Homo sapiens: one gene and its partners. The protein of the gene in region 2 interacts with the protein of the main gene of each other region in a pairwise test. Each region holds a gene or a part of one and is shown on either strand. Other genes may lie near its edges.

What was found.
Region 1: the proteins of LONRF1 (region 2) and KCTD9 interact in binary tests that used the Homo sapiens proteins (3 or more experiments, as listed by UniProt).
Region 3: the proteins of LONRF1 (region 2) and FLACC1 interact in binary tests that used the Homo sapiens proteins (3 or more experiments, as listed by UniProt).

Annotation. Positions count from the first base shown.
Region 1 is NC_000008.11:25,434,397-25,441,449, forward strand, and holds part of KCTD9 (BTB/POZ domain-containing protein KCTD9), read right to left. Parts: intron 6,278-7,053; coding exon 6,181-6,277; intron 5,397-6,180; exon of another isoform or gene 5,269-5,396; coding exon 5,210-5,268; intron 5,012-5,209; coding exon 4,883-5,011; intron 2,090-4,882; coding exon 2,022-2,089; intron 1,935-2,021; coding exon 1,839-1,934; intron 1,117-1,838; coding exon 967-1,116; intron 1-966. UniProt on the Homo sapiens protein: Substrate-specific adapter of a BCR (BTB-CUL3-RBX1) E3 ubiquitin-protein ligase complex, which mediates the ubiquitination of target proteins, leading to their degradation by the proteasome.
Region 2 is NC_000008.11:12,721,400-12,724,573, reverse strand, and holds the end of LONRF1 (LON peptidase N-terminal domain and RING finger protein 1), read left to right. Parts: intron 1-1,319; coding exon 1,320-1,478; 3' UTR 1,479-2,668; downstream 2,669-3,174.
Region 3 is NC_000002.12:201,340,309-201,347,361, forward strand, and holds part of FLACC1 (flagellum-associated coiled-coil domain-containing protein 1), read right to left. Parts: intron 6,368-7,053; coding exon 6,234-6,367; intron 3,956-6,233; coding exon 3,862-3,955; intron 2,124-3,861; coding exon 2,062-2,123; intron 1-2,061.

The DNA of each region.
Region 1 (7,053 bases), about 13 Mb from region 2:
TTTTAAATTATGTTCATTTATCTCAAAGCGTTTTTGACAAACATCTTTTTTTTTTTGTCCTTAACACAAACAAAGATGCCTCTCGACATTTCACTATTTAAAGATTAGGTCCTTCAAACGTTTTTTTGATGTTAGTCTTTTTCCTGTTTTGCTACTAACCTGACCCTTCATGATAAGACAGAATAAAGGACAGTGAAAGTAACTAAAATGCATATTTGGTAGATTTTGTTACTCGCCCTGATACACAGCTTCATGGAAAAATAAGCTGCAGCTAATGAGTAAAACCCAAATTAGAGTAATTCAATAAATGACTACCAAAAGCAAGATGGTATTAATTCAAAAGACATACAGACACGGGCCTTGGTGGTAAGGAACTTAAAGTTGTTAAAAATTAATAGATTTCATTGTTGGTCTGCATATATCCTCTAACTTCAAATAAACACAGATAACTGTTATAAATACATACATATACATATATATAAATATACACATATATGTAGAGAGAGGGAAAACGCCACTGAGATGTTAACTTCCACAAACTGATGCATACCATGTTTATTTCAAAATATCTGTCAAATACTTCTTGAGCAGTAACATTTTCCCATTCCAGAAATGAGGCTGAATAGATTTCAAGGTTCCTTTCAGCTTTACCTTTACAATTAGCTGAAAATATGAGTCCTGATAAATAAAGTACAGTATATTGAGGAGATCAAGAACTAATTCCAAGATTTAATTTCTTATTAGTTACTAAACCTTTCAAGTCTATGTTTAATAAAGGATATCAAACCTGTAAAACCAAATTCATTTCACTTTCAGACCTTTAGTCTTATATCAACATAATAAATTATCTGTTTTCAAGTAAAAGCTCCAGTAAAAGATAGTTATAATTCCTGTCTCAAAGGCTCTTTGAGACTGTTCAATAGACTAAACATTTAATTTTCTCTTGTAGCCTAAAATGATACTTACGTCAAGCACTGATCCAGAGAGATCAGCTCGTTCAAGATTTGCACAGCAAAGATTTGCATGTGCAAGATTACAGCGGCTTAAATTGGCCATTTTGAAGTTAATGTATCGAAGGTCCAAACGAGAAAGATCAGCACCACTGAAGTTCAAACCCTGAAATAAAAAAGCACAAATTGTCACCATAACTAAATCGTCTGTTTGTATTAAATTTAATTACTATAGCTAACCACCAAGTTTTTTTTAGAAGCAATTGGCAGTTCAGTCACTTGGAGTTTATTACAGAACATGATAAAATGGAACTTAGATACATAAAAGAAGTGTCCTTAAATAGGTTCCTCATAAAAGAAACTCTATCAATATATACATTAGAATATAGCCCGGCTATAATTCATTTCTGTGTAGAAGCTTCTAAAGAGGGATCCCTGTTAGTCCTATACCTGCTAATAAGTATTTAAACCTAATTATATTTAAATTATTTTATTAATTCAGTAATTCAAAACAGTTTATTAGGCAAAAATGAGTACTGTGGTCTTTACAATTTGAAATGCTATAGTACACATAAGTAAAGTACCTGCCACTGATCAGCCCATATATTGCAAATGTACAAATACTGACTTTTAAAAAACTGCTGCAATTTCTATGCATTATTCATAAACTGTTGCATGAGGTATAATTAGACAATTTAAAAAGGCTATTATTGCATCTCTTTTTCGTTAACCATTTCAGAACTAAATCAATGCTATGACTCATAATTAAATTAGATCTTGCATGTAAAAGAAAAACAAAGCAAGATAATCCCAAAACACTAGAAGAATGTAAAATTTTATTCATAGATTTGCTGATAGAAATAATTGATGTAAAAGCCTGCTAATTACCTGGCATCGCAGTTCTGACTTGGTTGGAGTTGCTAGCAAAAATCGGACAAATTCCTTTCGGGATATTGGTGAATGATCCTCCGGTGGTTGAGAATTCTTAAAAAAGACATTAAGAAATTAGTGGAGTCTTTTGGGAGATAGCTACAATGAATGTAACACTGGCTAATGTAAAAACAGGCTTACCTTTATTGCCACTTCTAGGTGTTCAATCAATGAGTCAATACCAAAAAATCTTGCTTCTTCTAACACACCTATCAGAACAAAAATAATTCTGAAACAACCTAATTTAGTGAATGTATTACATTCATTTTGAATTTACTAAAATACGATTAGTTCACATAATCTTAACATTTAATTGCCTTTTTAAATGGAGCAGATCTGAACAGGTTTGCCACAAGTATCTTTTACATACTGAATCAGAAAATGATAGAAATGAATAAAAGTTTAAAAAGTACAAAAAAGTCAAAAGTATAATTCAGAAATCTGTCTTATAGGAGAATAAATTTTAAAATATTTGTAAATACTAAAAGAGCTTTCATTTATCATTTACTTTAACTTGGTAAAAAAAAATGTACATCCTTTACATGACTTGGTATATTTACTTATTCTAATCTGTTAATAAACATCATCAGAATGTGTGGGAATACATTTGGGTTCCATTATCTTTCAAATGAGAAGACCTCAATCAGTTGGCTGTTGACTCAGTAAAAAACTACTTAGAACTCTGGAATTACAAAGAAAGTATCAGACATAATCCCTCCCTTCAAACACTTACAAGCTAATAAGGGTAAGTAGATACAGAAAACCAGAAGCAGTTATTTGGGAAGAATAATACAATCTTTTCTGTGAAGACCAAACTCTATGGTCAACAATCCAATTGTAAAACAAACGTCATCCAAGGTACAGCATCGGGCTACCACTCTGGCATACAGGGTCCACATTTCCCCTTCAAGAGGCATCCAAAGATTATGCCATTCCGTTCGGATATATATCCCTGGTGGAAACTCAACATATTATAAAAGAGGTTCTTGTGGGCCACGCTCTCAATTTGCCAAGGTCTAAGTAAAGCAGAACTCTTAGGGAATGCAGCCAGGATACGTTTCCAATTCTAGGTTTAGAATTAAACCTTTAAAACATCCAGAGAAGCCATAGAAATACAAAAGACAGGCCGGGCTCACACCTGTAATCCCAGCACTTTGGGAGGCTGAGGTGGGTAGATCACTTGAGGTCAGGAGTTCGAGACCAGCCTGGCCAACACATGGTGAAACCCTGTCTCTACTAAAAATACAAAAAATTAGCCAGGCGTGGTGGCAGGTGCCTGTAGTCCCAGCTACTCGGGAAGCTGAGGCAGGAGAATGGCGTGAATCCAGGAGGCGGACCTTACAGTGAGCCGAGATCGCGCCACTGCACTCCAGCCTGGGTGACACAGCAAGACTCCATCTCAAAACAAAAAAAATACAAATATTAGCTGGGCATCATGGTGTGTGCCTGTAATCCCATCTACTTGGGAAGTTGAGGCAGGAGAATCACTTGAACCCAGGAGGCATAGGTTGCAGTGAGCAGAGATCACACCATTGCACTCCAGCCTGGGTGACAGAGCGAGACCCTGTCTCAAAAAAAAAAAAAAAAAAAAAAAAAAAAAAAAAATCTGGATTTGAATCCCAGCTCTGCCACTCACTACTTTTTGGTGTTAGTGAAATTACTGTAGATTGTTTTAAAGCATATAATTACTTGGGGCAACCTGTAGGCAATGTAAAGAGTTTGGATGGAAACTGTACTAACTGAAAACAATGCTTTATAAAATGAATCCAGCAGAGAGCTCTGCTTTTTGAACACTTGAACAAATAAATGGTTGAGAAACATGAAAAAGAAAAAACTAGCAAATCTTGGTAATAGCTTGGTTTGCAGATGTGTGACACAGCATGGATAAATATATTTCTGACATTTTCTAGGCAAGTGGGATACAAAATGCTATCAATAATTTGAAGAAAAATTAAAATGGGAGAAATAGAAAGCAACAAGAATTTAGTTATAAAGTTATAGAACTAGCTAAAAGGGTCAAATAATATCTTTTTTTTTTTTTTTTGCAATAGGTACATGTTCAAGGGAATATAAAGTTTGTTATAGCAACACTAAAAGTTAATGGGTGTTTTGTATTTCACTACAGAAACTGTAAGCCAGCAGTCCTCAGGCTGATTCTGATGTGTTCAGCATGTAATGTTTTCAAAACAAAAACATGTCACATAAAATTTTAGATACCCAGGTTTTCTTTAAAAACCAAGGTTCTGGCACTCTACGTCTGACCACTTTGCACATGGCAATGATCTGCTGAAGCTGACAGGCATGTGACCTCAAGATTGCCAACTGCCTACCATTCCTCAAGTACTAACATCACATCAACTTCAGTCACTTGGAGGCCTATTAGCTTCCAAATATGCAACCAGTGTTTTATAAGGGCTTTGTCTACATCACCTCCGTGAATCTTCACAAAAATCTTGTGATGTAGATAGGGTCAAGAGTGCTTTTAACACTCATTTTTCCAATATGACTCAGAGAAATTTCCCCAAGTTAGTCTCCCTAAGTTAGCAAGTTGTAGAATCAAGACTCTAATTGAGAATTATGATTGCAAGGCATGATTTGCCCTCTTGACTACTCTAGTTCTCACATAATGTGGGGAATATCCAGAACTTGGAGCCAAGTTACATTCTTAATTCAATTTTTAAAAAAGGAAACAACAAAATCCTTTAAAGTCACTTGTGATAGAACGTAAATCAATTTAGAATATAAAGTTGATGCGTATGGCTTACATATTTAGCTATATGTACAAAGACTATCTACCTGAAGGACCACCTGCCCGTGCCTAAATCTATTTCTACACCTATATCACTCATATACATGTGAAAACATCTAGTTTAAAAAATAGAAAAAATATATACTTTTACTTTATGGAAATATACTGTTACTGAGTGAAACAAAGTTAAAATCTTAAACTTACAAAAATGTGAGTAGTTACATAATTATATTGAAAGTCTAAATAAACTCACCCAATAAATTAATGCCATCATTTACAATGAGCTGTCCATGACGCAAGTAGTTCAAAATGGGTTCGAAGTACTCAGGACTTCGGTCAATTAAGAAAGCTCCTCTATGATCTTGCTTATTTCCCCAGACACCTGTGTCACCATTATAATAAAGAAAGTCCCCCATAAACAAAAAATAAAGTCAGAAATGTATGAGGAAAAAATTGCTAAATATAAGTTTTTACTCTTAAAAACTGACATAATTAGTAAGTACAGAAGGTCAGGAGTTATAAAGTCAGCACAGATATAAAACAGGTAAGATGAAATGTGAAAACAACGTGTTACACTCACCTTTGTCCTTAAACATGTGGGCCAGCATACTGTCAGGTTCTTTATTCACTAAAGTGCTCCTAAGAATTCAGGGAAAAAAATTGATTTCTCCATTTGTCTTTATAAACAAACATATTTAAGTCAAGAGTATACTCGATCCCAGCTGCTCTCTCAAAAAGATGCATGCTACAACCTGGTAGGAGTAACGCTGGGAAACAAAAACGTGCAGTAAGTTGCCATTTATCAGATCCCTTCTAATAGGGTACTTCCTTTGATTTAAACATTGTTTTAGTTTCCTTTGCTTTAAATACTTGTCTGTCTATCCTGTAAGCAAATTATTACATAATAATATTCTTGATCTTCCAAACTTACATTTTTCTGCCCTTTAATAAAAGCAGTTGTAGTCTCCACAAATTTCAGTAGTGTTAATTTTTACTTATATTGTGTGTTTATTACTCAATATCTAAAAAGCATGTTTTTTTTTTTTTTTTTGAGAAGGAGTCTCACTCTGTCACCCAGGCTGGAGTGCAGTGGCAGGATCTCGGCTCACTGCAAGCTCCGCCTCCCGGGTTCACGCCATTCTCCTGCCTCAGCCTCCCAAGTAGCTGGGACTACAGGCGCCCGCCACTACGCCCGGCTAATTTTTTGTATTTTTAGTAGAGACGGGGTTTCACCATTTTAGCCGGGATGGTCTCGATCTCCTGACCTCGTGATCCGCCCGCCTCGGCCTCCCAAAGTGCTGGGATTACAGGCGTGAGCCACCGCGCCCAGCCAAAAGCATGTTCTAAAACACTGAAGTGATGCCTTTTATGCTTTCTCTGGAGTGAACCATGTTTTTTTCTTCAAAAAAAGTTATAAAAAATGGTTTCAGATCACATAGTATATTTAAGCAGCATTTGAGTATCTTTTAAGGAAATCAGCAAATTGAAGAACAAAGGGTACACAGTGCTTCTTTTGCATTCTCTTTCTAACACACATACACACACACCTACCGTGTAGTTGTAAAGTACCGCCCTCCAACATTTAATGTCAGCCAGTCTGTGTGGAATCCTAACAATCCCTCAGGAGGCTTAGAATCTGTCTGAGGATCTAGAGATGACATGTAGAAAATAATACAAATATTAAGATTGGGGATTCTGGGAAGATGGTAATGGCATAATTTTTTAAACTGAATACACACATAATAAAAGCATACCAGAGCTACTAGGACAGCAATACCCAAACCCACAGACTGCATCTAAAACAACACTAGGTGATAAGGTAGTCCCACCAATACCAACAGCTATAAGAGCAGCATGCTTTCAGCGCCTGTGAAAGAAAAAGCAGAGAGAAGCAACAGGGTATATGATGAACCCATGAATGTTAAAGCCATCCATAGATACTGACTTCATTGCTTAATAAGTCTAGCTGAAAACAACAGATTGAGATCATCCCAAAAGTGGGTGATGCAAGTAGTTTGCAGTAAGATCTTATAGGGCTGAAAATAAACTCTTAAAACCAAATGGCCAAAACTCCCTTCCATGGACAAAGCCCCATACTGATAAGATGCTGGGAAAATAATCCAAGTTGAATGCAACAAAGACAACAGAGACAAAAAAAAAAAAGGACTGCAGATGAAAGTTAAGAGGTTTAATAGACCAGAATATATCAGAAAATGAGTTCTGTGTATTTTAAACACTTCACAAAAACAACAGAAAAGGGAACTCTAGAGCCATGAAATTGGAAAAACTGTCCTGTCAGCCCTCTTTTCAAGTTAAGAAAAACTAATTTCATATAAAAATGAGCAATACAAAAAGACTGATCAAATGTTAATACAAAAGTGTTAAAATAATAATTGTCCTTATAGATAATGAAAACATGCCAGA
Region 2 (3,174 bases):
CAAAAGCAACCACCCGTCATTTTCCCAGAATGAAGGGTTTGACGTAGGATGTAGACTTTGTATAGTAGTTGGGAGAGCTGTGGGAGTGAAGGTCAGGGATGTCACCTACAGAAGTCAGGGAATCTGCCACCAGAGATCCTGCATCAGAAACAGCCAACAGCGTGCTTCTGAAGAACTAGTGGGGAAGTGGCTATAATTCTTAGGAATCCCAGCAAGTCTGCACCACTGTCTCAGTCTACAGCAGTGGAGAAAGGGGTTTCCAGGAGCTCTCTGGAAAGTTCCTGCCCACACTTTGCAACAATCTTCAGAGGATAATGGCTTCTCTTCCAGCTTCCACACCCAACAAGAGTGCCTTTCATCGGCCAACTCTAACCTGGAACCCTATGGCAGAGGGGATTTTAGAAGACAGTTTGTAATGTCTGTGGAATGCAGATGAAGAGGTAGCAATGCTTAGTTGACAGCGGACAATACACAAATATAGAAACCGAATCTGATTCTAGAGGGGCCTACTGAGATCAGCACTGATGTCGTAGCTCCTTTTGTCATTCTGAAGCTTTATATTTTAAGTCCGATAAATAGCAATTTAAGGTTCAGTGAAGGTGGCTTACAAGTCCTTTTATGGAAATTTCTAGTTGTTTCAATAGCCAATAGTCAGCCCTCACAGCATTACCAGGACCTTTTCACTGGAGATATGTTTCTTTTTTGAACAACATTGGAAGCTGGGGCCTTTTTCTTCTGTCTTTCCAAGGGTTCCATAATACTTTGAGGAAATTTTAAATCTCAATTAACATTTCTTAATGCTTTAAATCTATAGCTCAAGAAAGTGGCTGTCAACTAGGGGCATGTTGCCCCCACAGGATATTTGGCATTACCTGGAGACATTTTTGGCTGTCACAGCTGGATGGGAAGGTGCTACTGGCATCTGGTGGATAGAGATCAGAGGTGCTGCTGAATGTGCTCTAGTGCATAGGACAGCCACATGCAACAAAGAATTATCTGGCTCAAAGTGTCAGTAGCCTGAGGTCGAGAAGCCTTGCTAGTGTAATAGGAGGAAAGAGCGTGTGTTGACTGTGGGGAGTCAGGTCTAGATTTGAATCTCGGCTCTGCCACATAAGAGCCAAGAGATCTTGGACAATTTGCATTACATTGCTGAGCTTCAGTTTCTCCCATTTTATACTTTGCATAATTGTTAAGGACATTGGAGATAGCACCTGGCACATAGTACAAGTGCTCAATAAATAGTAATTTTTTGGTGGTTTGCTACTGTTGTTACATAAATCCTTGTTTTATTAATGCTATAAACTGTCCATTGTTTTTAGGCAGCCCCTAATGGACCTGCATGGTGTTGGTGGCTTCTTGCAGTTCTCCCTGTAGACCCACGATACCAGCTGTCGGTTTTGTCAATGAAGTCTTTGAAAGAACGGTTGACCAAGATACAGCATATACTGACCTATTTTTCTAGAGACCAATCTAAGTAACTAACTCTTTGGATCTCCCTTTAAAGTGACCCTAATCTGGCTGCATTGATGGCCAGATTGTCTGCTGCCTTTGCACATCTAGTGCTGGTTTCAGAAATTTAATGAAACTTTTCTTTTTCCTTCGACCTCCTGAATCATGTGGTTCTGCAAATGAATACCTTCAACTAGGATTTAGACCACTAAGAACTTGCACAGAAAAACACGCATTGAATGTGTGTCGAACCTCTACATTGTGAAGTTGCACTATGTACCATACTCTAAAATGAAATAAGAACTCTTTATGTCTGTGAGAGAGTGTGTGTGTGTGTGTGCGTGCGTGTGTGCTTGTGGGGGTTGGGTAGTGTGTGTGTATTTTCTCTGGCTTTAAAATTTTAAAACAAACAAACAAAAAAGCCATAGAGAGCAGAACTTGCCGAGGGTCATTTATTGCCCAAGTTTACAAGAGTAGCGATACAAGTTTTTGCAAATTGAATTTGCCTCAGATATATCTGTCCTAATGCTTATATTTGCACAAGTATGTAAAATATCGTGTTGAGGATCATTCTTTGTTGGAAACACTGCTCTTGCTGAACTGTCTTGACCATTGACTATGACACAGTTTCTTATTTATGTAAATACTTGCATCACAGTGGCCGACAGGCATTGGATGCAGAACCTAGAGCCAGTTTTCAGGAACAATTGTAAACCTGACATGGTACTGTGCATCTATTCATAAAACACTCAAAACTGTGAAAATATGGTTTACATTTAATTGTACATAAAGGTAAAGGGAGAACTCAATTCAGTACCAGTTAGTTTGTACATTTTAGGGGGCTTTTCACATTAACTGCCCATTTGTGTAATTTATAGTTTGACATGATGTGTTTGTTTTAAAAAAAAATGCATAGTATAAACCCATTAAGGATCTGGGAAAAGAGAAGAAGTTTAATATAGAACTAAGCTTTTAAAGTTTGTTTTTGTTTTTAATTCTGGTCTCGGTGCAAATGTTAGTTATGCCTTATTCATATCACAGTTAGATCACCATGCTGCAACATGGTTTATATTCATGCTGCCCTAGAAACTTTTGTAATTATTTGTTGCAAATTTGTGACTGTCCTTATTAACTTTCTTTTATGTAAGTAATTTGTAAAAGTTTCTTAAAATTTTTGCTTTTGCTTATTTAATTTTGAATAAAAGCTAAATTCCTAATACTTTTTCTTAAATTGTAGGTCAGTGTTATAAAAACAAGTCAGTAGAAGAACCAAACTGCATATGTTAAAGAACAGATGAGTTTTGCTTATGGTTTGGTGGCATTAGATATATGCTATGGTTTCCAAAAACTTTGGCCATTTTTATTTTTTGAGAAAAAAAAAGCAATTTATTGAGGGTTTAGGCCTCGGAACCATCCCTAAAGCACTATTTTTCAACCTTTTAAAAATCCATGTCCCTTTAGGGTAAGGCTAAAATTCTTTCTTTGATGCCTCACCATTTGAGACTTCTCTTGGTTACACAGACTGGACTGTTTCTGCCCCCAGTTCCTCAGCTAGGATTTTGCAAATGTCAGTCAATCATCTTTTTTTTTTTAGAGACAGGATCTTGCTCTATGGCCAAGGCTGGAATGCAGTAGCACAATCATAACTTGCTGCAGCCTCAAACTCCTGGGCTCAAGTGATTTTCCTGTCACAGGATCCTTGGGGTGGCACTTTGCCAGCCAGAA
Region 3 (7,053 bases), on a different chromosome or scaffold from region 2:
TCTTCCTCTCTTGGTCTCTTCTTTTGTGGTTTGATGTTTTTTGTAGTGTATGCTTTGAATCATTTCTATTTTTGTGTTGTGCTACTGCTAAAGATTTTTATCTTTGTGGTTACCATGACACTTAGTTAGAATATCTTGTTCTTGTAATAAGCTATTTCAAGCTGACAACAAGTTTAGTTGCAAGCAATAACTCAACAGTTTTACTCCCTCCCTAACATTTTGTTTTTGATGTCAGAATTGATATCATTTTATAATATGATTTATCATTGAAAATTTATTTTAGCTATAGTTGTTATTAATAGTTTTGTGTTTTTACTCTCATATTGGGATAAAATTGTCTTACATCCCATCATCACAGTCCTAAAGTATTCTGAGTATGGCTCTATTTTGCTTATACCATTGAGTGTTGTGCATTCATATGTTTCATGTTATTAGCAGCTTTCTGTTTCCGTTTTTAAAACTTCCTTTTGCAATTTCTGTAAGGCAGGCATAGTGGTAATGAACTCCCTTAATTTTTGTTTGGGAAAGTTTCTATTTCTCCCTCAACTGGGGAAGACAGCTTTGCTAAGGTATTCTTGGTAGGCAGTTTTTTCCTTCAGCACTTTTAATACATCATCACACTGACTCCTGGCCTGCAGGGTTTCTGTTAAGAAATTACAATTGTATTGGCACTCCTTTGTATGTGACGTGTTTCTTACCTTCTGATGCTCTCAGAATTTTTGCTTTGTCTTTGATTTTTGATAGTTTGATTATTATGTGTCTTGGTGTACTCATCTTTGAGTTTAATTTGATTGAATTTGATTAGGAGCAGGTGCACAGGAACTCTCTGTACTTTCTCCTCATTTTTGCTGTAAACCTAAAACTGCTCTAACAGATAAAGTCTATAGATAAATAAATGTGTAAATGGCTATGACTCAACTAAGAGTGCTATCTCTCCACCAGGATTTCTAAGGCTGCTCTGGTGTGCAGCAAGTAGCCTGAAAGGGGATGTAGGATTATCTTCACCCATACACATAAGAAAACTCCTTTAAAAATAAATTTTATTGTGTATATTTGAGGTATACAACATGATGTCATAAGATTCATATATATATATATATATAAATCATATATATATGCATCTCTACTATAGTAACCATTATACTATATATATTACACATAATTTTTACTATATATATACACTCACACTACACAAGCATATATATATAGGTAGAGTTTATATGTATGTATATATATATATACACAAATGGTTATAATAGTGGAGATTACTATATACATATAGTAAAAAGTTTACTAGAGTGGAACAAATTAACATATCCATCATTTCACTTAGTTAACCATTTTCCCTCTGTGGTGAGAACAGCTATAAACTCATTTAGCAACAGTTCTTAATATCATACATTATTATTAACTATAGCTCTCATTTTTTACATTATATCTTTGTAAACAATATAAACTTGTTCACCCTACATATTTGCAACATTGTATGATTTGATCAATATCTCCCCATTTTCTTCCTCCTACCGGACCATGGTAACCATGTTCTATTCTCTGTCTTTCTGTATTTGGACTCCTTTCAATTTTCTCTTGATTTGACTTTGCTCCTGATTCTCTTATACTTTCTTCCTATTTTGCTGAGGCCCTGACCTAGCAGCCAGGGAGAGTAGAGGTGAGACAAAGAAAAAGAGGAGGAGGAAGAGAAGAACGAGGAGATGGTGGAGGAGGAGCCTTGGCTGAGAACAACAGTTATTTATCACAGAAATCTCATAGAGAACAAAAATGACTCTTCTCAGTAACCAACAAAAAGGGAGATTATAATTGAAATGAAAGGATTGGATGATAAAATGTAAAAGCAGTAATAACTTTCTTTGTGGTTTATTTTAGTGGCTTTGAATCAAGCCATTCTGCTCTTCAAAGACACGTGTCTTGTTCATCTCCCCCACCCTTCATCCCCCAACTCCATTTAGAACTATTTGAAGTCCCAGTGAACTAAAATCCTGCAAAGGATGCGGGACCCTTAGAGCCATCAACACACACAAGGGTCCATGCCAGAAAGTGTACCTGTTCTTGTTTTCAAAGTTCTGTTTCATCTCAGCACAGCGGAGATCCATTTCACTGGAGAGCTGGAAACAAAATCAGCATCTACAACACAGGACTGAGGACCCTGTCCCATTCTGATCTGCACCTTCTGAAAAGCCTTCCAATTTATGGGGCACAGCCGCCTTCCAATTCATGGGGCACAGCCCCCTTCCCACCCCTCTTCCACTGTGCTCTGCAGTGCCAGAGAGCACATTATTAATAAGGGAACAGAACAATTTGTGCCTTGCTCTATGTTGTTTTGTACTTATTCAGTTCATAATGTTGGTGCATCTCTTTCACTGACTATTTTTTTTGGGTAGGTCTGGTCTCCTGTGCTAGATCGTCATTTCTGTTACATCATGGCCTTCAGATTTTTGGATATGTAATCCAATTGAGCAATCATTTATTGAACAAAAGGCTTGGCTTGGAAGAGCCAAGGAGGACTAAGACTCAGATCTTGCCTTCGAGGAACTTAAAATCTAGTGTTAATCCTTGTTGACAGTATAGTTCCATTCTAGCAGGCAGGATTTGCTCACTTTCAGGTGATACTTCATTCTAACATGTCAGATCCTCTGGCCAGTGTCTCAGGATAAATCAATACTTCAAATCAGTCGGTGACCACTGTCAGCTAGGACAAGGGTTTAGGGCTTGTCCTTGTACCTCTCTGACTACTGGGGAGAAGCCAGGGACTGTGTCACACAACAAGTGGTCAGCAGAGCCACTCTGACAGACAGAGAACAGCCCAGCGTCAGCCAACACTACTCCCTTCCACAGGGCCACACAACAAATAGCATCTTCACAAGTGGCAGTATTTTCAGTAACACAGTCTAGGATCCCTTCATGGAAATAGTCTCTAAATATGTCTTCAGCAGGATCTGTGCCTATGACTTAAAATGTTCATTTTGTCCAATGATCTACCACTGTTCAGTTGAGAGATTGTATGCAAATTGTTTAACTTCCCTGAGTCTCATTTTCCTTTCTATAGAAGGAGACCATAAACCTGGCAGTGTTTTCAGATAAATAAGGTAATGAATCAATAGTTGGCAGGCGGAGGAGGGTGGTCTCAGGATAGGACCCAGCCTGAGTCATAAGCTGGGTCACTGTAGGATTCAGACACATCTGGGGCATATCAGAGGGTGAGAGGCTGCCTTCTGGGAAGTAAAACTTCACAGATGGGGTGGGGTTCAACAACCCTGGGGAGGATATTTCTGAACACAGCACTGGCTGTCACTCCAGGCCAGGCCAACAGGCACACCTGTTTGAGGTGAGGAAGAAGTCACCAGATGAAACAGATGGTAAAAGCTAAAAAGGTGTCACTGAAATCCTCAGGAATCACAAAGAGTGTCAAATGACATCTGCAGATTCTGATGTGTGGGCAGCTTTAACAGTCAGAGAGTAAGCCCTGCACATTAAGTGCGCTGGTGTCGTTAGTGAGAGCCTCACAAGCTCTGAAACTTAATTGCACCACAAAGGCCAGACAGAAAACAACAAGTGCACCCTAGTGTGAGGAGGACAGTGTCACTGCACACACACAGAGGTACTTGGAGAGCTCCTGGAAATAAATGAGTTAAGCTTTGTGGAAGAACTTGAGTTCTTGGAATTACAGATAAAGATGTCAGAGAAATACTACTGAGTGACACAGTCCAATCTTTAGGGTCCTGTCACCTGGACAACATGGCTCATATGAGTAAAGTGCTTGGCATTTTGCCTGGCACATAGGTGATTCAAAAATATTAATTTTATTTTGTCCATGAAGATGTTAGCTAATGTAAGGTCACTCACCAATTTCTGGGCAGACTGGTGGTCTCTGTTCATTTGTTCAATTATTGCTGTCAGCTCTGAGATTTGCTCTTCTAGGTCAGAAATGATGTTGGTCCTGTAGGAGAAGTAATTCTTCTATCATCCACAAAGCTTACCATTCCATGCCATTCAGGCCCCTGAGCATGACTGACTCTGGCATGGTGAGAGCTGGCCTGGTGAGAGCTGGCCATGTTCTGCACCTGCTCTATCATTATGGGGTGGGGGTGGAGGGATAGGGGTGGTCTTACAGAAGGCATTTGGCTATAGGGCAGTTGAGGCTCAGATCTGGCTCTTGTGGGTAAGCTCACTAGACTTGAACAGGATGGTTTGGTGCCCTACCGAATAGAAGGAAAATAAGAATATGTCAGAAATTTATTAGAGTTTGACCTTGATTTGGTAATGATAGTTGAAACAGAGGACGAAGTTCAGAGGATTAGGAAATTAGAAGATGTGCAATAGGATTGATGCTGGCTGTGAACCACAGACAAGGATTGGGCCAGAGATGGGACTAAGAGGGTATTTAAGAGAGTGGCTTTCAGCACAGGTCATGGTTTTCTGTGTTTCTGGGTCTAAGGCTGCCATGGTATCTGTAAATTATTTAGCTCTGTCTGGTTGGGCTAGAGTGACAAGGCAGCAGGTGGTGCCATGTGCAGTGGAGCTGAGAGGAAGTCCTCAATGCAAGATGCTTTGACCTCTTTGGCCAACCACTTTGCATGTCTAACTGAGCACAGAGAGAATGTGGGCTGATAAAACAAGAGAGGAGATACAGGAGGAGACAGTTCAAGGGTAAGAGAAAGAAAAGGCTTGAGAAAGTTGAATAATAGGGAGCCCCTATCTTTTGAACACAATCTTCAATACAAACAACACCCACAACTTTACCAGGGAATACAACAAGCACAGGTTATCATATTTTATTGTGCACAACTGGTGACAACTTCCTTGTGAGGCCAAGAGGTGGCTGTCGGTGCTAGCTTGACTATAGGTGCATGACCCATTCTCTTCCTGCAGAGGGCTGTGGATAAGCAGGGAAAAGAAAGCAGAGGCTGAATGCCCCTGGGTGGGAAGACAAGATAAGCAGGGTGAATGCCCCTGGCCCCTGGGTGGCCCTCTGGGCCAGGTCAGATCAGGGAGACTCCATGGCATGGCCTCATTCTACTTGAGGGGCCTTCAGACTCACCCTCAACCTGAATCCCTTCCCCAGATGTAACCACTGCTAACGGTTTGGTTGAATTCTGCCAATACACTAGCAGATAGGTAGATGATTGTGTGTGTGTGTGTGTGTGTGTGTGTGTGTGTGTATGTGTGTGTGTGTTTTCTATTGTTGGTCTTTTAGACTTGTGTGTTGAAAAAATAATTCTTACAGCAAAATCAGCCTGAGGGAAGAGGCACTTGGAGAGCCATTCAGTAGTGCAGTTAAGAAGTAAGATGCCTGAACATGGGCAGGATATCAGAGAAGAAGATATGAATAAGAGATTAAAGGGTAGAATGAAAAGATGTAGAGATGAATCTGCATCTGTTAATGAAAAAAGAAAGACATGGAGATATACTTGATATGGCATTGGAGGACAGAGAGTGGGTGGAGCCTGAAGACAGACAGGACAGCTGTGCTAATGGGTTAGAGTCAGGCCAGAACCTTCCACACTGCATCTCCCGGGGGCATGAGCTGAGTAGTATTTTTGGACATAATGAAAAAGAGGCTGGGCGCAGTGGCTCACGCCTATAATCCCAGCACTTTGGGAGGCTGAGGCCAGAGGATTACCTGAGGTCAGGAGTTTGAGAACAGCCTGGCTAATATGGCAAAATCCCATCTCTACTAAAGCTATAAATATTAGCCGGGCGTCATGGTGCAAGCCTGTAATCCTAGCTACTCAAGAGGTTGAGGCGTGAGAATAGCTTAAACCTGGGAGGCAGAAGTTGCAGTGAGCTGAGATCGTGCCACTAAACTCCAGCCTGGGTGGCAGAGAGAGACTCTGTCTCAAAAAAAAAAGTGCACTCCAGCCACCCAGAAACCCTCACTTTACTTAATTTGCATGCCTCAAATTCAGACTAATTTATGGCTATTCTATCTATTCCTCACCCCACGAACAATTGCTATCCTTTGGGATCAATCACATAACTCCCAATCTTCATCCTGCCCCTTGGATCTGCTCACGGATGGGATCAGAGCAGAGAGGCAGATGTGGAGAGATGCATCATCAGGAAGCAGGGGCGAGGAGGGAGGTGCCCTTGCGGCCCCTCCAGAGCAGGGACCAGTGGCCTGGGTGTGGGCATAGCGGCTTTGGCTTGTCCCTGAGGCCGGGCTGAGCTGGGTGGGAGTAGCCCCAAGCAGCTGCATGTTGCTGCAACAGCATTACCTGGAAAATCTGCCTTTGTCCGGGATCTCCGATTCCCACCGCTTTTTCCTATCAAACATCTCATCCCCTAAGGTGACAGAAATCTGTTCCCGATTCCGAACAAGTTGATAGCCAGGTGACACGTTGATCACTTCCTAGGCATCAAGGGAAAGTAAGATAAAATGGCAGACTTGGAGTGCTGAGATTTTTCCAAATCTTCTCTTATTGCCTCACTCACATCTTAAAAACAGGGACCTGGGACTCCACAGCCCAAGCCCTTCTGGGCCCTTCACCCATTATAGCTCATTCTCACATCTCTCCGACTCAAATCTGATGCTTAGCAGGCTCCTGGGTGTCCCTAGGGGCCTCTCAAGCTCTGCGCCAAACCAAGCCACTGATGCCCCTGCCCCCGACTTGTGTTCACCCTCGTGGCCAGAGCCCAGAGGAGGTGGGCATGCGGCAACTGCTCGGGTTTTGGAATCACAGAGGCCTGAGTAAATCTTGGCTCTGCCACCAGACAGTAGCCATCCAGCATCTCTGTGCCTCAGTTTCCTTATCAGAAAGTGGGGTTAATAACTCTTTCTCAAAGGGCTTTTGTGAGGGAAAAACAAAACAACATATGAGAAAATGACTAGGACGGTTGCAAACAAAATGTCATTTCCTCCTCCTTTTCCCATTAGACGCCAAGTCAGAAACCTGGGCAGGGCCTCTGCTGGCCTGGACCAGGGCAAGGCTGGGGCTCTGAGAGCTGCGCAGCACATGCTGCAGCCCCTTGATCCCTGCTGTTGTCACCTCCTTCATGTCTCTGTGAGTCACCCTCCTCTCTCCACACCCCTGCCTG